3 separate regions of the Homo sapiens genome follow, and regions 1 and 3 are each linked to region 2. Evidence: fine-mapped expression QTL. A gene starts in region 2. Each other region holds a variant in brackets. All regions are shown on one strand. Distances are between the middles of the regions.

Region 1 (8,181 bases), 37 kb before region 2:
CACTGGGAAAACAGCTTTAAATCTGAGTGGGGAAGAGTATAACTTGACACAACCTCTTTTTGGGGGGCTTGGCAATATTTACTAAAATTCAAAATGTACGTACAACAGAATTAAAGAAGCTACAAACATCTTCTAGGAATGTAACCTACATACTTACAATAGACACCTTACAAAAGGATACTTTAGCAGAATAGACAATGAATCACTATCTGTACTAACAAAGTACAGGGATGGGGAACCCTACATGTCCATCAGTAGTGGACTGGCTAAATAACTTATGGTGGTAAAATATAAGGTTCTCTTCCACTGTTAAAGAGCAAGTCAGCTGTACATACACAGGTATGGAATAATCTCTAAGATGTGTTATTGGTTGAAAAAGAAAGCAGAGTGAGTACTGTAGTGTGCTTATTATGCCATTATTTGCAAGGGGAAAGACATACACATCATTGAATGTCTGTGCATAAAATGTCATTGAAAGAATATGAAATAAATTTGACAGAAGAACTGAGAGGGTGTTCCAGTTATCTATTGCTATATAACAATCCACTCCCAATTTTGTGGCTTAAAACAGTTATGTGGCTTGGCTGAGTTTTGTCAGGCAGTCAGCAAGGGCTGCCAGAACCTAGAAGCTCACCTGAGTGGGACATCAAGATGGTTCACTCATGTGACTGACAGCTGATGCTAGGAGCTTCGCTGGCTCATCAACCAGAGCACTCACCTGTGTCTTTCCATGTGGTTTCTCCCGGCCAGGGGACTGGGTTTCAAGAGGAAGTGTCTTAGGAGCAAGTACTCCTGGGGTCCCAGGTGGAAGCTGTGAGGCGTCTTATGACCTGGCTTTGGCAGTCCCAGAATATCACTCTCATTTCATTCTATTGCTCAAGCAAGTCACTAAACCAACCCAGATACAAAGGGAAGGGAATTCGATTCTTCCTTTCTATAGTTGGAATGTCAAGGTCACATTGCAGAAGAACACTTGGGAGAGGAAATATTACCATCTTTCTCTTTGGAAAATACAATCTTCTGCAGAGGGAGATTTACTTTTCACTGTTCAGTCTGTGATACTGCTTGAATTTTCGTCCATGTGAACATCCAAATATAGTCCAAGATTTTAGATCAACCATGTTTATATACCCATTCACTTGTGGCTGGTTAGTAACCTCATCCTTCTTTACTGGCAAGTTTTCAGTGAGTCCTCAGGTGGTAACACTCTGTCACAATCAACAATAATGGCAGGTTCTGAATTTTTCTGAGTTTCTTACATATTTTCACTGCTTTTCAGACTTAGACATCAAGCTTCCTGTTTTTAACCACCAATCCACATTCCCCGTTAAAAATTGTAATTTTGAAATGATTATAGTTTAAAAAGATGAATAATGAATGACAGTATAACCACAAAAACAGAGTTTTCAGAGGTTATCAGAGACCTGCGGTGGGAAGTGAAACTAAGCGTGGTCATATAGTTCTGAACAAATCGTTTGATTGAACACATTGTGGTTGGAAGTAAATTGCTTTGTGGAAGCTGTGTGTGTGTGATTAAATGTCTTTTTTCAAAAGTTTGGTAGAGTGGCAAACCCATGTTTCAAAGATCTGTCTGCTTGTGCTGTGATCCTGCAGGGTAATCTATTGGCCATATTCACTTGGATCAGACTACAGACAGAACACTACCAGGTTCTCTGATAACAAAAAAGCCCCAAAATATTTCAACAACTTATAGCACATAAAAAGCAAAATAAAACAAAACAAAGCCACAAGCTTGGGTGACATGGAAAAACAGGAACCTGCATGTTTTACTTGCAAATACATGTCTCAAAACCCTTCAAGATTTCCAAAATTCAAAAGAATGTCTTCCTAAACATTTAGGTAAAAATGGCACCATGTGGCCTCCCCTACGCTGGTGCACCACAGGAGGTGGGGGTTCAGGAAAGAGGGGTTGGGGAGAAAAGAGAGAAGCCACAAGAAGGGACCTGGACATTCTTCTCTGCACTGTAGGACCCTGTCAGTGGCCACCACTACCTGGCAATCCTGAGATGATCAACAAAATCAGAAAAGGTCCGGATGACAAAATCAGACTCCAGAGGAAGGTGGTTCATGGGTCCACGTGGATGTGAGAGGAACACAGGGTCAGGATGCATAGTCTGCTGGGAAGCCTTCTGAGAAACCCAGGTGCTAGACCTGTCCTGGTGTCCAGCACAAGGCGGGAACATCCTCCATGATATTCCTCCAGTCTTTAGGGCTAGATCAGTGAAAGTAGGCAGATGTCATGGCAAGGGGTGACTACGGTCAGAAATGCACACCCTGCGCAGCTCTGTACCTTCAGAGGGCCACAGTTGCAGACCTGCAGGGAGTAGCAACGAGGATGGGGTGACCTATGCCACTTGGCCCCACCCCCTCAAGGACATGCGGCAAGAGGATCCTTGCACAGTAAGGACCTGGATGGAGCAGACGCGGAACCTCGACCCTAAGAATAGATTCTCTACTTAAATGAGCATCAGGTGTCTATAAGTCATTTAGGGGGAATATTTGGGGGAAATCTCAATTATAGGAATTATCTACTCACCTGTTATATTTACTTGAATTGTGTTGGACCATGGCAGCCTCAAGGTTATATTCAACTTTTACAATAAAATGACAGGGTGGTTGAATCATGACTATACTATTATTAGCTACAGGATGGATCTTGTTGAAAATCAAAACTGTCCCCTCATTCTTCAGATTTTATTTTATTTCAAGAATAACAAGAGCCTGGGGGTGGTGGTTCACACCTGTGATCCCAATAATTTGGGAGGCTGAAGCAAGTGGATCGCTTGAGCCCAGGAGTTCAAGACCAGCCTGAGGACATGGCAAAACCCCACCTCTACAAAAAAAAATATATAAAAATTAGCCAGGCATGGTGGTGCAGCCTGTAGTCTCAGCTACTTGAGAGGTAAGGTGGAGAATCACTTGAGCCTGAGAGATCGAGGTGTCAATGAGCTATGATCATGCCACCACCCTCCAGCCTGGGTGACAGAGTGAGACCCTATCTCAAAAAAACAAAACAAAACAGTAACAAGAATATTGTAGGTGGCGGTGGCGATCATTGCTGTATGGAGTATGGATTCTGTGTCTTTACACCGTATTCTTGCTTGAACTTTCTGATATCCTGGTGAGAAGCAAGGCCTCTGTTTTACAGATGATTAATCTCAGAACAGGAAAGTAGGCTATTTGATTTAGTGGTAGTGCAGGAGGACAATCTGTTTTCCTAAAGTGTTTTTAAAATTGCTCATCCATGAAGGGCAGGCACTGGCAGGCAAGTGATCTGCCTGTGTTCTCGAGCGAGGCTGGTGTCTGCTGAGGTTGGTTGGGTAGGCAGTTTCCTGGGTGTCCTGATAATCTTTAGATTTTTTTCCCCAGCTGCGATGATTTGAATGTTTGTCTCCTCCAAAACTCATGTTGAGCTTTGATCCCTACTGTTGGAAATTGGCCTGATGGGAAGTGTTTGGGTCATGAGGGGATCCCTGATGAATAGAATAATGCCCTTTTTTGGGGGTGACTTCTCACCCTATTAGTTCCCTGTAAAGCTGGTTGTTAAAAGAGCCTGGTGCCTCCCCACTGTTTTTCTTGCTTCCCCTCCTGCCATGTGATCTCTGCACACATGAGCTCCCCGTCTTCCATCATGAGTGA[G/A]AGCAGCCTGAGGCCCTCACCAGAGGCAGATGCCCAGTCATCAAAATTATAAGCCAAATAAACTTCTCTTTATAAATGACTCAGCCTCATGTATTCCTTTATAGCAGCAGAAAATGCACTCAGACACCAACTGAACTGAAAACTACCTTGATGGGGCTGGAATTTAAGTCACAGCCACTGCCATTTCCAGCAAATGATAAGGTGAGCCTCCCAGAGGCCCAGCTCTTGGTGTGAGAAGCTTCTGGATGGAGTAGGTCTGCAGTGGGCTTGCTTCTGAGCTCAGGAATTTATGTACTTGTATGTTAGTTTCCACTTCAGAATAACCACACACTTAGAGGCTTAAAACTACATTCATTTATTCGTTCACGGTTCTGTAGGTCAGGCATCCCTCTGTATTATCTGGAGGCTCAGGAAATAATCTGTTCCCAAGCTCATTCAGGCTGTTGGCCGAATTTGGTCCTAAGCAACATAAGACTGAGGTTCCAATTCCCTGCCAGAAATTCCTTTCTGCTCCTAGAAGCCCCCCACATTCCTTCTCACTTGGGCCGCTCCATCTTCAAAACAGCAATAGTGCTGCAAGACTAGCCAAGCTCTTGAGCTTCAAGTCTCTCTGATTTCCCCCTTTCTGCCCTACTCTTCTGCCACAACAGCCATGGAAAGTTATCCGGTTTTAAGGAGCCATGTGATTAAATTACACCCACCCAGATACTCCCTTTTTGTGGGTCCACTGTGCCGTATAACATAACACAATCATAGGAACGATGCCACATGTTCTCAGGCTTTGAGGAATAAAGATGTGGGATTTTTTTTTTTTTAGCGGGGAGCATTTTTAGAATTCTGCCTGCCACATTCTGTTTCTGTTGCTGAGACCCAAAGAGAGTTAGTAAAGGACGAATGAGTCTGCTAAGAGTGACCAGGGGACATGTTTGTCCAGGCCTCATCAACATTGCTAAGCACGTTCAAGTAACAACACTGCAGTGGGTCTTGCAGGCCTTCACATGTCCAATTTACTCTACTGCAGCGGTTCTCCAAGTGGGGGCCCAGAACCAGCAGCAGCAGCACCTGGGAACTTGTTAGAAATATATATTTTGGGCCCCACCTCGACCTACAGAATTAGAAACTCTGGAGATGGGGCCAGAGGTCTGTGTTTTAGCCAGTCCCTTGGGTGATTCTGATGCTTGCTCAGGTTTGAAAACTATTTCTCTAAGGTAGGTCCCCAGTTTCCTTTTCTATGGAAGTAAAAGTTGGGGAGGAGTCAGATAGGTAATCTCTAAAATGACTTCCATTTCTAACAACGTATGATTTGTGAATATTACAAAAAAGATTACACTGTAGAGACCAAAGAATGCACATATATGTCAATTGTGTGTGTGTGTGTGTGTGTGTGTGCGCGCGCTTCCATGCATGTCACGGTTAAGAGTACAGGCTTTGGAGTCTTTTCTACAATCAAATTCTGGCTTCTCCAATCACTAGCTATGTAAATGGGCCAGCTGCTTAGCCTCACTGAGCCTCAGTTTCCTCATTTATGAATGATGGGACCTACATCATAAGGTTATCAGGATCAAGTGAGATCATACAGAGAACACATAGCGTAGTAAGTTCAGTGACTTTCGGCTATAATTACTTCATCCTGTTCAGTTTCTGGAAACTTTCTCCTTGAGTGCTTGAGTCTATGGTGGGGGTAAAGCACCCAGGCCCTTGTCAGGAGGCCCTGAAGGCAGCCCCGGGAGGCACTGCCTGGGGACTGAGGATGAGCTGCTCCTAGGCCTGAAGGCAAAAGTGAACCTTCTCTGATTCCTAGAGTCAGCTTAAGTCCTGTCACTGCAAAGGAAGACATCTTGGTAAAGCGTGTGTATATAATCCCACAGCCACCATGATCTCCTCCTCAGAGATCATACAACCCGAGGCAGAAAGCACGCATCTCAACACCAAGTCGGCTGAGATGTGGAGAGCGGGGCTGGAAACCCTCAGGGGCATTTGCAGAGTTTTTATTATATTTGTTATTATTGGTTTTTGTGTTTCATTGTTGTTTTTGTTTGTTTTACATGTTCAAAGGAACAGAAATAGTTAAGGCCTGGAATAGAGTCAACATGTGCCTCTGTAAAGTTGAGGTAGGTCGGGAAGTGTGTCACCGGGGGAACATAAAGCAACCCCCGCCCCTGCCCTGGCTCACAGGCCTCACCAGCGGAGCTGCGAGAGGTCTTTCCAGAGCTTGCTGAGAGGCCTGAGTGGAGATGAAGACCCTGTGAGCCAGAAGTGTGGGAGAGAACAGCCTCCTCGCACAGGCCTCTGTCCTCCAAGGGGAGCTGTGCTTTTCTCAGCCTGCTGGCAGTTGCCTGTGGCACTGAGGCACTGAGGGAGGGAAGGCAGAGACCACCCAGTGTGAATTGCTGCTGCCTGAAATGGAAACTGTTCTCCCAGCCATAGGCAGGCAGAGCCAGGAGGGGCTATTCCACAGCTGCTCCCCACCCGCAGCCCATTCCCAGGCTCCACATGGCTCCCTCAGCCTCAATGCCACCAAGAGAGCTGCTCAACCTGCGAGGCACTAGCCCGTCTGCTAACAACCACAGAACGCTCTGGGAGGGATGCGGCTGGGTCTCCTTTGCCTCCTCTGAGCCACAGAGATTGGCCCCCCGGGGACAGGTCTTCCGATTTGGGTTCAATCTCTGGCTGAGGTCTTAAGCAGTTTTTCTATGCTTGATGATATGTGAGTGAGAGCCTGAGAACTCTTCCTGCCTCCTCTTGGAGAATGTCTGCCAGCTCCACATAGGAGGTAAGCTGTTCCAGGAATCGTGCATGTGAATTCGGCTTCATAGTTTTGGCTTCATAGATGGCTTCATAGTTTCAAGATTAAGGGCCAAAGATGAATTCACAACGGTTCTTGCCACCCAGTACTTCATTTATTCCTCTTTAATGTCCTCTATATATTAATCCATTTAGGTCCTTTCATGCAGACCAAAGTTGTCCAACATTGGAGTAATACTTTCTTGTCCCTTTGGTCCCCTCTAAAAAGCCCACCAATAATTTGATTCAAAGTAGAAGAACTTTGGATAACAGAGCGTTCTGCAATACTAAACAAGGTTCATAAAGTGCCACTCTGGAAGGAGTCTTAAAGACCAACAGCCAGCACCACGGATATATTTTTAAATGGTGCTGAGTAAGAAACGTTAGGAAGCAAATGAGGACTATAACATAATGTAATATATGTAAATTTTAAATAAATACACAAAATAATAATCATATCTTATAGAACTACATACCTATTCAAGGATAAATATCTTTCACATTGATGTAGTGGCCTGTTGGGAAGAAAGGAATTAGTGCTGGGAATGGAGAAGGAGGGAGGGAGAGAGGAAGGGAGGAAGGAGGGAAGGAAGGAAGGAAGGAAGGAAGGAAGGAAGGAAGGAAGGAAAGAAGGAAGGGGAAGGGAGGAAGGGAGAGGAAGGGGAACAGGGAAGAAGGGAGGAGAGGAAAGGGAAGAATTTAATAATGATGATAGCAGATTATGTCTTGAAGAATATGGAGTAACTCTAACATAAGTTAAAAAGGAAGCAAGCCCTAAATTAAACCTTTCATTTTACAGATGGAGAAACTGAGGCTCAGAAAGATGAACTGTTTGATGCTGGGATTTTATTGCTGTTCAGAGGCAGAAACCAGGCATTTTGACTTCCAATTCAATGTGCTTTCTACTGCATCAAACTGCTACACGTATACTTATAATGCCTCACTTCCTTCCCTTCTAATGAGTAATTCATCTAAGTATAGTTTTAACTGGAGAGGTTGATCATTGCTGGCCCAATTCATGGTCCCTCTCCCAGAGAAGCCACCCACCCCTACTGAAAGACTGAGGCCTTGTTGGACACCAGGTGACCCGGATCACCTTCTCTTGGCCGATGGGCCTGAGGTGGGAAACTGATTCAAGGGCAGCCCTTCCAGAGACAGGGTGGGGGTCACCAAGCATCCTGGTTTGCCTTGGACTGAGGGGGGTCCCAGGATGCAAAACTCTCTGTGCTGAAACTAGAAAAGTTCTGAGCCACCTGGGACAAGCTGGTCATCCTGGCAGGGAGGGACTTAGGACCTGTAAGGCCAGCTTCAAAAATAGATTCTCAGTGAGAAACAGGGAATCTAGCAGACCGAGACTGTTGGCTGCAATAGAAGTGCCGTGGTGTAGAAAGAGGGCAAGGGGCACTAAGGAGCTTCCATACGGGTCCTATATAAACAAAACTCAAGAGCAGAAACTTCGAGAAGTGGAGGACACTGGTTGACCAAGAGAGGAGAAAAGGGTCTATCTTTGTTTAAAGACAAGCAGATACCTGCCCGCAAGAGAAGGACTCTGCTGCAGAGAGGATAAAACTCTCGCATTGGCCCTTCATTTCAGAGGCACACGGTGGCAAGATGGGGGTGCAGATCTCCAAGAAGAGGAAGTTTGTCACTGATGGCATCCTCAAAGTGGAACTGAAAAAGTTCTCACTCGAGAGCTGGCTGAGGATGGCTACTCTGGAGTTGAGGTCCAAATTACGT
Region 2 (8,181 bases):
CCCGCTGCTTCCAAGCTTTGCCTCAGCCCTGCAGCCACGGATGATGTCACAAAAAAAGAAGGACAACACAGAGACAGTGCAGAGGCCCCTCAAAACACCTGGAGACTGCTGGACTCAGACAGATCCAGAATCCTAGAATGTTAGTGCTGCAGGAATCTTAGAGAGGCACTGCTCATTTTATAGAGACATAAACCAAGGCAGGAGAGGTTAAGGACTTACAAGGACAGCCAGCTAGTGACAGCCTGGGAGGAGAAACCAAGTGTCCCACAACTAAAATGCTATGTGGTTTTGGTGTGAGAATAACAGGGGTAACAGGGTCACTTAGTGAGTCCCTAAGGTGGCAGAAGGCTCCAAGGCTGTCCTCATGGTTCTTCTCACTTTCCTCTTAATTTGCTCTGTGACCTCAGTCAAGGTCACTACTTAATATCCCAATGCTTTGCAAAGTAGGAAAGAGTTGCTGGGGGGGAAAAGATGTATACAAGGTTCCTACGGGGCTTCCCACAGCAGCACCATTGTGTATGTACACATGATGGGGGTGTGTGCGTGTGCACACACATGTGTGAGAGATGGAAGAATTGAGAAAGAGAATCCAGACGAGAACCAAGAGCAGCTGGTGAAACCCTGCTGCAAAGCCACTGTGATAGAAGCAAGAACGCAAATAACAGCAACCCACCTACAGTGACCTGGACAGGCTCCATAATCTGGATCTGTCCCTCTTCTCTCTCAGAGGCATCCTGGCCAGCATTCAGCGTGTTTCTCTTCTTAACATGGGCAACCACGAAGAAACACAATCCCACAAGCACAATCAAGGGCCCCATGATCTGCAGAGAAAGGAACCCACACATCCGGGGCTCTGAGTCGCCAGTGTCTGTCTCGTTTAGCGGTTCCTGCGCCCAGTTGGAGCCACATCCAGGGACCCAAATGCCCAGGACGCTGATGAGCATGCCGCTTGTCAAGAACAGAAACCCAAAGATAAGGCACTGGGCAAACTGGCGGCTCTCTCCACAGATGAAGGCTCGGTCGGGGTCCATCTGCTGACCTCTCTGCAGCCCTGCACGGAGCTGAAGTTGCGCCCGGGAGCGGGCCAGGATCACAGCCCCAAGCCCAACCACGGCACATGCAGGCCCCGCCACCTTGAGCACCATGGGGCAGTCTGGGAGGGGCTTATATTGGCATGCCTGGAACCCAAAGATGGAGAGCAGGACTCCCACACACAACAAGACGGCGCCGAAGACAAAGAAGCAGAAGATGAGTTTGCTGACGTGTCTGTCCTGCTGGTCCCCATCTGGCTCAGCAGCAGCTGCAGGAGACATGTCCAGGAGAGGCCCCTTCCCGGAGGCAGGGTGGGATGTGTTTTCTTCCCTCCAAGATTTCAGCAGCTCTGCAAACACAACCAAACACCAAATTAACGTGGGCACAGGTGTTCCAGAACCACCCTGGTTTTTTGCTGATCATTTCTGAAATCACACCACAATGAGGCCTTGGGGGTAGAACTTTATACAACTGATAAGCTGTAGAACAATGAGTTGGTTTATGAGTCAGATAAACTAGCATTCAGAAACTCCTAAATATGTAATTTTACAAGATATTCAAAACAGGAAATTAAATTACTACACATCTAAGGGTATCTTTTTTAAAAACTGAAAGAACAAAAGTAGCTGGGTGTGGCATTTCCTTTTCTGAGTCTTACAAACTCATTTCCCTGGGGAAAAAAGCACTGGTGAATGAGGGAAGAACCACAGGGATTCTTTCTGATTGCAAATGCCCCACTTTTCATCATAGCTGCTCTCAGCATTTTCAAGTCAGTTCAGTAACTAACTTTCCATTTCCTGTTTTAGACTACAGCAGCTTTCCATTTCATGTTTTATTCTAAGGCTACATCTACAAAAGACCCAATTTCAGCAATTTCAATAGAATAAGAAGTCTGTTCAGGAACACAGTGGGTTTGGTGGACTTTTAAGTTGATTCTATCAAAATGTGGTTCTTGAGGCCAGGCGTGGTGGCTTGCGCCTGTAATCCCAGCACTTTGGGAGGCAGAGGCAGGCAGATTGCTTGAGCTCAGGAGTTCGAGACCAGCCTGGGTGACATAGCAAAACCCCATCTCTGCTAAAAATACAAACTTTAGCCAGGCATGGTGCCTGTGGTCCCAGCTACTTGGTAGGCTGAGGTGGGAGGATTGCTTGAGCCCAGGAGCTGGAGGTTGCAGTGAGCCAAGATCACGCCACTACTCTCCAGCCTGGGCAACAGAGTGAGACCCTGCCAAAAACAAAACAAAACAAAACAAAATGGTTCTTGGGTTCTCAACAAGCACAGACTGGTGACCCAGTTGCTTGGATCTGGGATGACCCTGGAAAGTGTTGCACAGCAGGTCAACAGGAGCTCAATTTTCAGAGTGGACAGGTACCCAAAGGCTGGTGTGGCCTCTCACTCACCCTCCTCCATGGTGTCACCTACTTCCACAAAGAGGTTGAGACTCAGTTAAAAAACAAGCAGCCAATAAAACTGCTAGTTATAAAGCACAAAATGGGTGGAAGGGGGGAACTTGGCTTTGAAAGAATAGTATAAGTGGAATCAAGTGAGAAAGCACCTTCCAGAAAATCACCCAAGCCCTGTACTTCAGGGGTATAATATATTAAATATGCCAAGTGGTTGTTAAAGAGTTGTCTAGCTTACACAGAGCTGACCTAATTATCTCGTTATCTTATTTTACTCCAATGAATGGGATATTTTACCAGGACCCCGTAAGTCAGGTCCTGCAATTGCAAAGACAATCCAAAATCGTGAAGACTATTTTCACCTGCCCAAGGAAAGAAAACTTTTAAAATATTTTGTGCCGCTCACATCCATGGTCCCATGAAGGAACTCAAGACTGAGGCCCTAAGCCCAAGATGATCTTGACAAACCAAAATCACACTGAGGGAAGGTCAGTTTAGGTAAAGAAAGCAAACAGGCAATCTTACACTGGGAAAAACTTTTCCAGGAAAAAGTATGATAGAATCAGAAGGAAGTTGGAGAAAAAAAGGAAATATAGGAGGGAAAAAAGCTTTCATTTCAAACTTGGAAAAACTTGATATACAGATGCAGTTAAGCTGAGACAAAGCATTGCACTAATTTTTTAATCTTCCCATTTTTTATTAAGTCAGTAACATCCTGCAGTGAATAAGAATTTCATATTGAGTATACAGTAGTCCTCATTTATCCTACAGGGAGTACATTCCAAAACTCTCAGTGGAATGAAACGATGGAGAGTCCTGAAACCTATATATATTGGTTTTTTGTTATTGTTGTTGTTTTAATTTTTTTCCTGAATCATGCAATCTCTTTTGCGGTTTCGGAGACAAGAAAGAGAAGGGTGATTCTCGGCTGCAAAGTCCTATCAGGAATTCATTTATTCCCAGTATAGTCAACTTTGCAGTGAGTCACAAGGCTTCAACTGTCTTAAGGCAAATTCCCAAACACCAGTAAATAGAAGCCCAAAACTGAATCTGTAGTTTCTTGTCCGTGGACTAGTGGACGGAGCACCTGGCTGAGTGTTCACCTCTGATCCATAATAGTGTGGAAATACTCTCTCTCTCTCCTTCTCCCACAGATGCACTCACAAACGGATACAAAGACACCCACATTCACTCGCAATGAAACCTTTTCCAAACACCACCCTACACTTAAACTCCCCAAAGCCAAACTCCCCTCTCCAACACTCCTATTGGTTTTCCAAAAGACATTTCCAAAATTCACAGCACCTCTCCACGTCCAAAGCTATGGTGCGTTTGGGGAACGAAACGAGAGGCAAATGCCTTCTGTGCGAAATCGGTTTGCGGCTTTTAGGGAGCCCGAGCGCAAGCAACAGCCGGAGGGGCTCGCAGGGACGCAGGTTGGGCTCGGATACCCAGCGCCTCCGCGCTGCCGCGGCTCCCCGCGCCCAGCCTGGCCGCACAGCTCAGCGCCCGACCCGCCGCCGCCGGCGCAGGCGCGCGGGCCGGGGCAGCTTACCTGAAGCTGGGTCCGGCGCCTGGCTGACCGCGCTGCTGTGGGCACTGGCTGGGCGCGGCGTCCGCCTCCGCACGCGGCCTCGGCTGCGCCGGCCGCCCTGCACCCTACCCACCGCGCGTCCTGGTGCGGAGGGCGGACCCGGCAGTATTTAGAGAAGGAGGCGGTGCTGCGCGGGCGCGGCGGCCCGGGGAGGGCAGGGCAGGGCAGTGCAGGAGCGACCGGTGGGAGCTGGCCGCCACTGGGGGCCCGGGGCGCGCCCGCGAGGGAATGGAGAGCCAGGGGCGGCTTCGGAACCCAGGGCTGGCGGGTTTGGCAGCCTCCGCGCTCGTGGCCGTGCGCGCGAGGAATCTGGGAGAAATGGGCACCTTCCACGGCTGCCTGGCCCGCACACCTGGCGGGGCCGGCGAGTTGAGATGCCCCCGCCGGCTGGCGGAACTGTGCGCCCCGCCCGCCGAGGCCCGCTCCCCCTCGAGGCCTGAGGCCCAGTTCTATAGGGGCGCGAGAGAGCGGCGGCGTGGGGGGCGCGGAGGAAGCGCCGGCCCCCGCCTCCACCGCCTCCTTCGTGGTTGCGGCCCAGGCCGAACAGGGTACCGTGCCCCGGCCGCCTTGGCCTTGGCCACCGCGAGGTCCGGGGCGACTACACCCAGCAGCCCTGTGGCCCTCCTACTGCTCTGGAGACCTGGAGTGGGGTTACAGAGGGAAGCGACTCGCTGCGAGCTCCCCATCGAATATGGAGCCACCAGGTCACGGGACGACGTGCGCTCTACAGAATGTGAGACAAGGGCCCTCCACACCCAGCCATTCAGGCCTGAGGTCCTGGCTCCGAGACTGAGGCCGAGACGCGGCAAGCCCCGCGCCGGACCAGCTCTGCCCCTCCCGCACCCACGTGTCTGCGCACAGCCCTCCTTTGCGATAGAACCCCCTTCCTGGTTCTCCACCACTAATGATCTGCCGGAATTAAACTGGTAACTTTCCCTGCCCTTGAACCGGGAGTTTCGGGATGAGTTTGCCAATCCCTGTGCTATTTGTAACCAGCCCCGTGACACGTGATACGGATCCAACTGTGCTAGTTTCCACACCAGGGGTCAGGGCACGGTGGAAGGTGAGTCAAGGGTTCTCTGCCCAAGCGCAGAGGTGCCCTGAGCCACGGGGACTTCCCAGCCCTGCCTTCTCTTCTCAGCTTCCTGTCTGCCTTGCCTGAAACCCTATCTAGAGTTAAGGCCAATGGATGAAACTTTTCAATGTGCAAGCAAGCACTTTACCTACCTGATACAACAAGAGATTCCTGGTCATGCTCACTGAAGGTAAAGTATGAAGCAGGCTTAGCTAATCATCAGAGGTGAGAAGAGACTTAAAGAACCAGTCAGAGAGGTAAAGAGGGGAGGGGGTTACCTGGGCTTTAGGGTTCACCAGGGAGGCAGAACGGACAAGTTCTTGCCATTGGAATTTGGTGGGGCACTTGCCTGGGTGGCCAAAGGTGGACTTTTTCATAGCCAGGGTGCCCGACCTCTGTAAATCCCCGCCATAACTAACAGCCCTGATTACTGTCGAAATGAACAATGCCAACACTCACGACCCCTTGCTTTGTGGTTCTTTGCTACATCTCTCCAGCAGTTCAGAAAAGGTTGGAGGCAGCAGGGGACAGGAGACTGAGAAAAACAGTCATTTGTCAGTTGAGGAAACTGAGGTCCAGGCTGACAGAGGTAAAGTAACCTCTGCAGCTGGTTGACATGCAGAGAAGGCCTGAGCCAGATGCAGATGCGCTGACCATTCAGTGTTTCTCCCGCAGCACACCTGTCACTCAGAGAACACACCATGCTGTGAACCCAGAAAACGCCCTCATGGCCTTGTGATGCCAAGCACGTTTAGATTATTATAACAATACAGGCACTGTGTCCCAAGGACATTGCAGTAATCTATGTTTGGGGTGGAGATATCCTTCCTGGTCCAAGTGTCAAGGTATACCACCTTCTGGAAGGGCACCAAAGCATGTCCAGCGAATGGGCAGATACCCAAGAGTGGATTGTACAACAGCAGGCACTGGCTTTCTAAGAACTCAGGCCCTCATTATAGGATTTGTCCCCTCTGACACAGGCCTGTGAACAACTCTTCATTGTGCAAAAGGGTTTCCTTGTCCTTTCCCTACTCATTCTTCCCTTCCCCCTTATTTGAAACTGAATCTCTGGCCATGTCATGTGCAGGCCTGCAAGGGGCCTGTTGATACAGCTGCCCCTCTGGTGCCACATGACTGCAGGCTCACCACCCATGACAGACTTGAATATCCTGGCACCAAGGACAATCAGATTAGCCTCCACTTGGTATATCTGCTGTTCTCACTGTTTGTGTCTATGAGAGCCTGTTTGACTAAATTAAACTCCTTGGAAATTGATCATCGATTATGTATGAAAGACATACCCACCAGCCTTTGAGGTACTTATCTTTGTAGCCCACCTAGCCTTAGGAGAGAAGCTGCGTGGCCTGGTCACTATCTAGTGGTCTTCCCTGGCCTGTGTGGTAGTGAAAAAGATAAAAGCCAGACCGAATCCTTAGAAAAACAGCATCAGAACAAGATTAAAAACCTCGAATTCAGTGACTGTAGAAGCATAAAGCAGAGGCATGTGTTCATGTATTTAGCCAGCACAGATTTACCAACTACCAATAAAACACGGAACTTGTATTTTATTGAGGAGAAAGGCAATAAAATATGTAAGTTATACAGAGAATTAGAAAGTGATTGAGTGCCAGGGAGAACAATAAATCACAGATGGGGACTGGGGAGCACCCCATTTTAAATAGGGGAGTTAAGGAAGGCATCTCTGAGAAGGTGAGATTGCAGCAAAAACTTGAAGGGAATGAGGAAGCAAGTGTATCAATGATCTATTATTGCATAACAACTTACCCCAAAACTTTGAAGTTTGAAACAGCAAAAATGTATTCTCAGGGTTTCTGATCAGGGTCAGAAACTGCAAGTGGCTTAGCTGGGTACTTCTGGCTGAGCCTCTCAGAGGCTGCAGTCTAGCAGTTGGCCAGGGCTGTGGTCATCTGAAGGCTGGACTGGGGCTGGAGGATCTGCTGCCAAGGTGGCACATTCACAGGGCTATTGGCAGGAGGCCTCAGTTCCTCACTATGTGGATTTCTCCACCCAGCCTCCCCTCACGTGAGTGATCCAAGGGAGAGCAAACAAAGGGGAAGCTGTGGTGCCTTTTCTGACGAGGCTCTGCACTTCCATACCATCACTTCTCTTTATTCTGGTCCTTAGAATTGAGTCACAAAGTCAAGGGGAATGGGATTAGGTGCCACCTCTTGTAGGGAAGAGTAAGAATTTGTAAGCATAGTTCGTGATTTTTTGTGGGAAGTAGGGAAGAGTGCTTCAGGCAGAAGTAACCACAGGTGCAAAGGCCCTGAGGTAGGAACACACATATTAGCATATTCAAAGGAGAGCAAGAGGCCAGGGTGGCTGCAGTTGGTGAGCAAGGGGGAGAGTAGGAGAGGAGGTCAGAGAGGAAAGGCATGTGCAGGGCCAAGGGCACCAGGTTGTGCAGGGCCTTTAAGTAGGTGGGAAGCCTTTGAATGGTTTTTGAGCTGATGTGATGAGCTTTGACAGTGATGTGATCTGATTTCTTTTAAAAAAGAAATTGGTGGCTGTTGCAGTAAGAATAGCCCAAGGAGGAGCCAGGATGGATGGGAAGAGGCCAGTTAGGAGGCTGTGGTAACAACCCAGGAGTTATGTCTGTAGCTTGTGTATGAAGGTGATGAAAGGGATGAGACTTTGGATATATCTTGAAGATAGAGTCAATGGGATTTTCCATGAACCACATGTGGGTTTTGATTCCAAGGTTTTGGATCTGAGCAAGTGGAAGAATGGTTCTGGCATGAGCAAGATGGGGAATCCTAAGAGTGGGACAAGTTTGAGAGGAGGAGCTTCAGAGTCCATTTGGGGACATGTTAATTTTGTCCATTAGACATCCGAGTAGAGAAGCTGAGTAGGCAATTGAATATGGAGGCTTGGAGTTCAGGAATTCGGAAGGAATACTTTCCTGTGGTCTGTGAGTGACATTACAAAATTGAGGAGGCTGGGCTCCCTCTCTGGAAGAGTAACAATTAGTCCTTTGGAGGGTTCTAAACACACAAAGCAAGGGAGGGGCTGGTGCCAACCAAGTGCAGTTTTCAGATGTTTCTGGGGTGCAGAGC
Region 3 (8,181 bases), 460 kb after region 2:
CAGTGTTCTCAGCCTGATTGGTGCAGTTATTACTAACTCTCTACCAGATTCTCCAACTCATTGCAATACACACTAGGTCAGGGCCCTTCGTGGTCTTAGCAGATTTAAATATTTTGATACTCACCCAGGAGGGTGCCTTTGTCTTTTGCTTAGAGAAGTAACGTTCCGCTCTGTTTTGGGGCTCACTTTTCCCTTTGGTTGTGGGAGAAGCAGCAGGGTTCATTCTGTTTACTAAAGAGCCAGCTTATCCCCCCAGCCTAGTCCATTCTTTTTTTTTTTTTTTTTTTTTGAGATGGAGTCTTGCTCTGTCGCCCAAGCTGGAGTGCAGTGGCGCGATCTGGGCTCACTGCAAGCTCCACCTCCAGGGTTCATGCCATTCTCCTGCCTCAGTCTCCCGAGTAGCTGGGATAGCTGGGACTATAGGCACCCGCCACCACGCCCGGCTAATTTTTTGTATTTTTAGTAGAGACAGGGTTTCACCATGTTAGCCAGGATGGTCTCGATCTCCTGACCTTGTGATCCACCCGCCTCAGCCTCCAAAGTGCTGGGATTACAGGCATGAGCCACCGCACCCGGCCTCCCAGCCTAATCCATTCTTTATGACAGGATGCAGTGGCCCCTCTTAGAGGCAACTTGCTGTCCAGGAGCCTCAGCTACTCTCTCACTCCAGACAAGCTGGAAAAGGAGCAGGGATTCTTGCAGAAAGGTTTTCTGTGGCCACTGGTTCTTAGGTGGGAGGTCAGAGCTCTCAGAGCTGTTGTTACCAAAGAGGGCTTTGCAGGCATAACAGCAGCGCATGGTCTCATGCATATGCTCTCTTGAATGATTTTTAAACTGGTCACTTCTGGAATACATCCATATTAATAATGCCTTTTGGTTCTGCAGTGATCATAACCCAAGTCTTCAAGCTCTGGGATGAGACAGGGCCTGGCAGGGCTTCCATAGTTCCTCTATGTAGGTAGATAATGTGCTTTCGCCCTTCTCTGGAGCAGGAAGAAAACAGCAGCAATGGAAAGGTAGGCTGGGGCTGGGAGCAGAAAGCTGCCTTCCAAAACAGCACTGTGCTGTGGCGTCTGTCCCAGGATTCAGCCTTCTGTGTTGCGTTGTGGAGCTCTCGGAGTGGTTTTTGGTTCACTGGCTTGCAAAATGATGGTGGCCACCACCAGCTCGGGGGCTGCTAGCAGAACACAGCCCAAGGCTTGAGACTAGAGAATGACACTTAGTGCAAATGAACAAAAAGGCAGAAATGGCTAAATCTCTAGGGCAGTCTGTTAGTAGCTCTCACCTGGCCCTCACCTAACCTGCCTGGGAGAACACCCAGAGCTCCTAAGCAAGGTACAGTTCTGCCCTGCCATGGGATTAGACTTCTTGATTTGAATCCCAGCTTCACCACTTGTGAGATGCTGGGTAAAATGCTTCACCTCTTTTAGCCACAGTCCGATTGTCATACAATGGAGATGCTAATAGTACCACACTCATCATAATGAGGATGAGAATGGACACTTTACGTAGAAGCTGAGCAGAGGCCTGGCCCACAGCAACTGCTCAGGGAATGTCAGCCACGGTGGCATTGATATTACTCCATAAGGGATCTGCGCACTTACCTCACCCTGTCTCCCATGTTGTACACTTCTTGAGTGAAGAGGTGATGTTTCTCTTCCTGTATGGGGCAGTGCAATGAGAAGGGAGCACGCAGACCCTGGAGTCGGCCAGTCTGCACCCGACCTCTGCTGCCTGACAGCTTTTAACTTTGGGCGCATTCCTTCACCTCCTCGTGCTTCAGATTCCTTTCTGTGAATGGGAGAACAATAGGATCTGCCTTCTAGGGGTGTTGTGAGGATCAACGAACTCATCCACATGAAGCCCTTCCACTCAGCACTGGGTGAGTGCCCAGAAAACACTAGCAATGATGGCTCCATGTCCAGGGAGGACCTGGCTCTCTGCCTCTCATCAATTTGGTACTCAACAAATGCCTCTGTGCTGGGTTGGACCCAACATGCTGGACCTGCCTCTTGTGGTTCCTTGCTGTTCCCCACTTTTCCAAAGTTCCATTGAAAGTCTCTGAATGTATAACCCAAGAGCAACAACAGAAATATGTTGGAGGTACCAACTGGCCCTGTTTGACAGGTTCTGAGTGGTTTCTTGGGATGCAGGACTTTTCCGTGCTAAAGCCAGGACAGTCTTGGGCAAACCAGGATGGTCAGTCACTCTACTATTGCTCACAACTTCCATCCCAGGGCTGGTGCTAAGGCGTTTGCTCCTAGAGGCAACTGTCCTGGAGTGGGTGGCAATTTTGGTGATGGCTTTTCCCTCTGCTTTTTAATTAATGCTGCCTCTCTCTCCAATGCTACTAAAATCTGCAGCCTGCAACCTGACACTCTACCCTCAACAATGAATGCTGGGGTGGCTTCCAAGGGAGTAGAATATGTTGGCCAGGGAAGGTGGAAAATATCTTGAGCAGCTCACAGTTATTTCATCAAAGTCTGTTTCCAGGCAATCACACCAATTTCTTGAGAGGTTGGTGCCAATGGGAACTCGGGGCCCATGCAGCACAGACTGGGGGTTGATATACCTGATTCTAATAATCACTTTCTTCTCTGAGCTACGTGACTTTGGACAAGATTCTTAACTTCTGTGGGCATCTAGTTTTCTCATCTGTAAAAAAGGAAGGACATTAGATAATCCATCTAGGACCATTCCCTCATGCTCATCAAGGCAGAGGCATTGGCTATGCTGGCCTGGGTCTGTGGAGGGCAGTGGGAAGAGGATGTCTCACCCTGGGCATGTTATTAAGCCCTTTTAGCCTCATGTATCAAATGAGGATAATTACAGTACCCTGTATTGTTGCTAGAATAATTCTTTAAAGGCTAAGTATCTGGATTCAAGAGACTGGTTTTCATGTGAGCCTGTAAAATCAATCCTTTATTCTATATCCATACCTCATTCTTTAGTTCAATCATTAAATAAATATTTACTCAGCTCTTACTGTGTGCCAGGTACTGAGCTAGGTCCTAGGGACACAATAATGAATAAATTAGCAGGTCGTTTCTTTTCTTCCTCCTCCTCCTTTTTTTCTTCTTTTTTGTAAACAACAATTTATTAAGAACTTACGGTTGCAAAAATTTTAGGTCTCTAACCAGTATAATCCTTCCTTTCCTTTTTAGTACGGAATCCCTGTATTCTAGGATTTGGCAAGCTGTCCACTGAAACATTATTTTTCCCAGCCTTCTTTGCAGAGGTGTGTATGTGTCATGGGATGAGGGCGGTGGGTGGGCAGAGTAATATGTAACTGGAAGTCACTGAGTGGGGCTTACAGGGAAAGCTTTTTAAAGGAGGATGACTCAGTCAGCAGGTCCCACTGCCTTTCCTTGTGTCTCCCTTGTCTGTTCCTAGAACACTCAAGTGAGAGCTTGAGCTCCAGCAGTCAT[C/T]CTATAAGCCTGAGGACAAGGGCCACAGCCTAGGGATGGTGAAGCCTGGAGCTGGAAAGAGCCTAGGTGCCTGATGGTGCTTTGGAGTCATCATACCTGCACTGCTCTTATTTTATAAGGGGAAAAAATCCTTGCTTTATTTAAGCCAATATTTAAGTCTCTGTTACTAGTAGCTGAATACAATTTCCAGTTGATTTATCTAATATGTATGGAGCAAAATGCGGAGACATATTTAATTGTTTTTCCCTAAACATCAAGAAGTGAAGGCTATAGAAATCTAACACATAAGAACTTAATGTTCAAACTCAAGACATTCATTAATCTTTCTCAATACCTACCAAGGGAAGCTGATGAAACTAGCCTTTTCCTCATATGCTTACTGTAAAAGAGGTAAATTTGAAATACCTTTAAATCCCGGTTTCTCTAAGGTTTGACACCATGGAATAAAATTCACACAATTAAGTGTTTTATTTCAGCTTTTTCTGGGCTTAAGATGATATGCCCAATTCATCTTTTTTTATTAGTAGAGTGCTCACAAATTCTCAAAACCTTTATGAGAAATCCATGTGGTTTTATTCAATCTGCAACCCTAATATGGTTGTATTTTTAATAATGCTAATGGAATTAAAATTTTAAAATTCACCTGGCACATATTTTCACTCACTCCAAGAAATTATAAAAATAGCTGGCATTCACTGAGTACTTACTCTTTGCCAGCCTCTCTGATAAATACTTAACAAGCAAAATATCATTTAATCAGCTCAACACTCCTATGAGGTAGGTGTTATTATTATTGCCATTTTGTAGGTGGGGAAACTGAGGCAAAGGGTGTTTAAATGGTCTGCCCAAAGTCACACAGCTAAGAAGCAGTGATGGGATATGAAGTCAAACAGTCTTAAAAGCAAGCTATCCTGTTGCAAAATAGGTAAGTGGCTTTGAACAAATTATTTTACTGTTTAAAAAGAAAACTTGTACAGTTTTCATATGACTATGTGTCAAAAAGAAGGTATATTTCAAGAAACTTTATGTAAATATGCCCAAGGGCACATTGAATCTGTCCACGATCTTGGCCAATGTCTAGGAAGACCTTTGTCTTAAGGGATGGTAAAATAGATGCCTCTTGATTTGAAGACAACCAATAACATGCAATATTTGTGCTTTGGCATCCTTATTTAGAACATCTGCATTTTTCTAACCATGCAGTTAAGTAGGAAGGTGGGGAAGATATTCAGTATTGAATGCCTGATAAGTCACCAGGTACTTAACGGAATGATAACCAGGTAGCACCTGCCCGTCAGCCCTGTAGGGAGCTAACTACTATTGCCTCTTTAACAGATGAGAGAAGCAAGGCCCAGAGAAATCAAGTGATTACCAAATACTGATGGCCAGGCTCAGGCTCAGGAGGCTCAGATTCAGTTGGTTTGAGATGAGGCCCAGGCATCACTAATTTTAGCAACACCGTTGGTTATTCTATTTTGCAGCCAAGGTTGAGAACCACAACTCTGTACTCCTCAGAGGTAACAAGTGATAACACTAGACCACATACTTGAGCCTTTGGTCAGCAGTTACAAGCGTTTACACTCTCTGGCCTGTGGATCCCTTGGACTCTGTTGCTGTGACCTGGTGCTTGCGCTCTGGTGGCTCCTCCTGAAATGGATTCCTCACCCACAGTACTGGCCAGAATTCTTTGTGCTGATTTTCATTGCCTCACTCTGGTAGAAGAGAACGAAACTCCCAGAGTGTGTGTGAGGTTGGGTTCCCTAGGAACCAGACTCTGCGATGGAGACCAGTGTGCAGGCAGCTTACAGGAGCGAAGGCGGCGGGACTGGGCAGAGGGAAGAGGTGAACTGCCTTGTGGGTGCTGATTCCGTAGGAGCTTGGGAGTCGGAGAGACTCTTCAGGGTTGTGCCACTTGGCAGCAAAAGGGCTGGCCATTGACCAGTCTTTGGATATGGGTCCACCTCCCTCTACTCAGGAGCCTGTGATTCAGAGAAGGGCAATTCCTGTAGAAGGACTCAGCTGGGAGCTGGGAGCTTCTAATACTCCCAGCAGCTGGCCAAATGATTGTTTCAGTCTTGAAGAGGTACTGGGGGGCCCAGTGGAAGGAAACAAAAGGGCCCACCACAGCACTCACTACACAACAAAAAGGAGAATAGGAGAGAAACTCTGTCTGTCTGTGGCTTTGCTGTCACTTTGTTGTTGGCTTCACCACAAGACAGCTGTGAGCATTTACCTCTCTGGGTGCGTCCTGCAGGGGCAGTTCCTTTCTCCAAGCCATGTCTCATATTTTTGCAGTGGAGTATCTCTCTGAATGATACAGATCATCCCAATGAGAGTGAACCTGGAATGAAAACTGGTATAATAGTGTGGTACTAGGCATGAGTCTTACCTTCGAACAAGGTCCTTGGAACCTGGGGTAAGGTGATGTTGGACTCTAGTAGTGCTGTAGGAATCACACCTCTTTTATAGTGAGCCTCCTCTTGTCCTGGAGGGAGACATGACCTCATCCCTCAAGGCTGCTCACTGCAAATGCAATCTTGGGAAATGGCCCAAGTAAAGAGTTGTCAGGGCCTTGCATTCTTGGTGTATCCAGCAAGCTGAACATGAGAGATCCATGGAGGAGAGCAGGAGAGGGCGTTCCGGGAGAAGGAACAGCATATGCAAACTTTTCTAAAGTATTTTCTGTGGAAGCTTGCCTCCTGAAATGTTATAGAGGCTATTGAAAAAAAAAAGAGTTTCAAGGTCAAATACATTACTTATTTAAAAAGGTTGGCAAGATTTTTGTTTGTTTATTTATAACTGATGGGTTTCTGAGAGCCTTTAATACACTAATGAGCATTGTGAATATTCAAAAAGAGGGAACAATATGTAACATTTCCCTTTTTTTCTGGATCTTGGAGCCATTTTTGGTGTAGCACACTGAATGCTATATTGCATTCTAATGGCCGCAGATACTAGGATAAGGTCCCTGTTGGAGTTTTAGGAAGGTCAATAATGCCGCTCAGATTGGAATCCACTGAGAGATAGATCTAGATCAGTTGCATGCAGATAGATATATCACATTTGTTATTGCCAATGCTATGTAAGGAATGTGGCCTAGGTGGTTCAGTAATTCTAATATTCTACCCAGATGTAGGCAGACCTGTTTACCCAGCTCCCAGCTGTGCTGGAAAACCACAGGCCTCCCCACCTTGGAGGAGCAGGTAATGTGTGCTACCTACACGCTAGTAGGCTCCAGGGAACAAGAGAGAGGAGGGAAGGACTCAAATGTTCACAGCAGATTATTCTTCCATGTTCATCAACCAGGTTAGTCAGGCCAGGAGCACTACTCTGATGGACACCCCTCAATAGACATGAAGCCATGAAGACTGGGGAGTAAGTGTTCCTCCCTAACACCCCGTCAAGATTGTATGATGTGTCCAGGTCAGTGTTTTGATGCTAAGCCAGGCAATACACCAAGGGTGCTGAGAAACAGGCTTATCACCCTAACAGAGCTGACAGAGGGACACAATTATCCTCCCAGAGTTAGGGCACTTTACAAGTTTCTCACTGCAGTTGGGGCATTGGGGAGAGAACACGAGGAAGGGATGGAGATTCCTCAGAGTGCCCCCTCAGAGACTGAGTGAGTGACTGTCCTCTATTTTTAGGAAAGGAACCTGCACACTGAAGGTAGAGTGAGTGAAATGAGCGCTGACGCTGATTCTGAGACTGTTGTACCAGACACTGTTAGTGTTCCATCCATGTCTCTTCAGCTGTCCTATTGCAAGCACTGCCCCTCTCTGCCTGAAGGTTTCCTCTTAGTCAAAAGTCTTCCAAGCTGGGAGTTAATGCTCCTTGGAGTAGTCCTTAGCCAATGCTAGATGAAACTTAGAGGTTCAAAACCCCACTTCCTTGCACCTTGGGTGGGATGACTCTAAGCCATGTTCTATAAAGTCTCCAGAAATCCCTGGTGGGATTGAGCCCTGCTCACCCATAGTGGTAACCTGCTTGATGACACATAATTTATTTGCTTCCTTCCCATACCCATCTCACATCTCAAATAAATGACTTTCACTCAAATCCTTGTCTCAGGATCAGCTTCTGGGTAACCCAAACTAAGACTCATGTTATCCACAACATCCATCCATTCATCCTTCCATCCATCCATCTATCCATCCATCCATCCATCCATCCATCCATCCATGCATTCATCCATGCATCCATGCTTTCATCCATCCATCCATGCATCCATGCACCCATTCATGCCTCCCTCTATGCATCCATCTATCTGCTCATCCATCCTACCAAGCTATCATATGCCAGGCAACATATGAGGTTCTCAGAATAAGGGATAATAAATCACAGCCTTTGAACTAAAGTTGCTCAACTGAATTGCTTTATATTCCCCATATCACCAGGCAGAGATACTCAATACACCAGATACCAAAGGGGCATTGGAAATTCTGAATAATCTTCTTTTCAAAGGCTTGAAGAGGGTTGTCAAGCTGAGCCATCCCCGCTGGGGCAAACAGTGCCTGGCACATGGTGGATGTTCAAGAAATGTTCACCAAATGAGTGTTCAAATAGGCAGAGTGCACAGATGGATTCATTGTAAAGTAGGTCAGCTTTCTCTGGAATCCCTTGCTTTCTGAATCCTTGCCCCAAACTGTAAATTTATAGTAAATTCACAATTTAAAAGATGATCTCAGAAAATCAAAAAACTCACTTAGGTCAGGTGAGTGCGAGATCCCTTGGAGGAAAGTTTTACACTTAA

Evidence for each region. PIP is the estimated chance that this variant, and not a neighbour inherited with it, causes the effect.
Region 1: its variant is fine-mapped to the expression of TMEM171 in pancreatic islets (PISA, PIP 0.95).
Region 3: its variant is fine-mapped to the expression of TMEM171 in whole blood (TOPMed, PIP above 0.99).

The regions. Positions count from the first base shown.
Region 1 is chr5:73,153,611-73,161,791 of GRCh38, reverse strand. It overlaps the pseudogene LOC101060067. Among named protein-coding and RNA genes, the nearest start is that of TMEM174, 15 kb to the left of the region's middle. RefSeq lists enhancers at 5,542-6,042, 6,043-6,543. The variant G/A (reference allele first, on the strand shown) is at 3,661.
Region 2 is chr5:73,116,506-73,124,686 of GRCh38, reverse strand. TMEM171 (transmembrane protein 171) reads right to left here and starts at 4,112. Exons shown (of 4, transcript NM_173490.8): 1 at 3,991-4,112; 2 at 674-1,381. The coding sequence starts at 1,313. It overlaps LOC124901001, which reads left to right and starts at 4,196. Exons shown (of 2, transcript XM_047417978.1): 1 at 4,196-8,181. The coding sequence starts at 4,258. The coding sequence ends at 4,959. RefSeq lists an enhancer at 4,722-5,273.
Region 3 is chr5:72,656,739-72,664,919 of GRCh38, reverse strand. The region is part of intron 7 of TNPO1-DT (TNPO1 divergent transcript); the gene reads left to right. Among named protein-coding and RNA genes, the nearest start is that of ZNF366, 150 kb to the right of the region's middle. The variant C/T (reference allele first, on the strand shown) is at 3,429.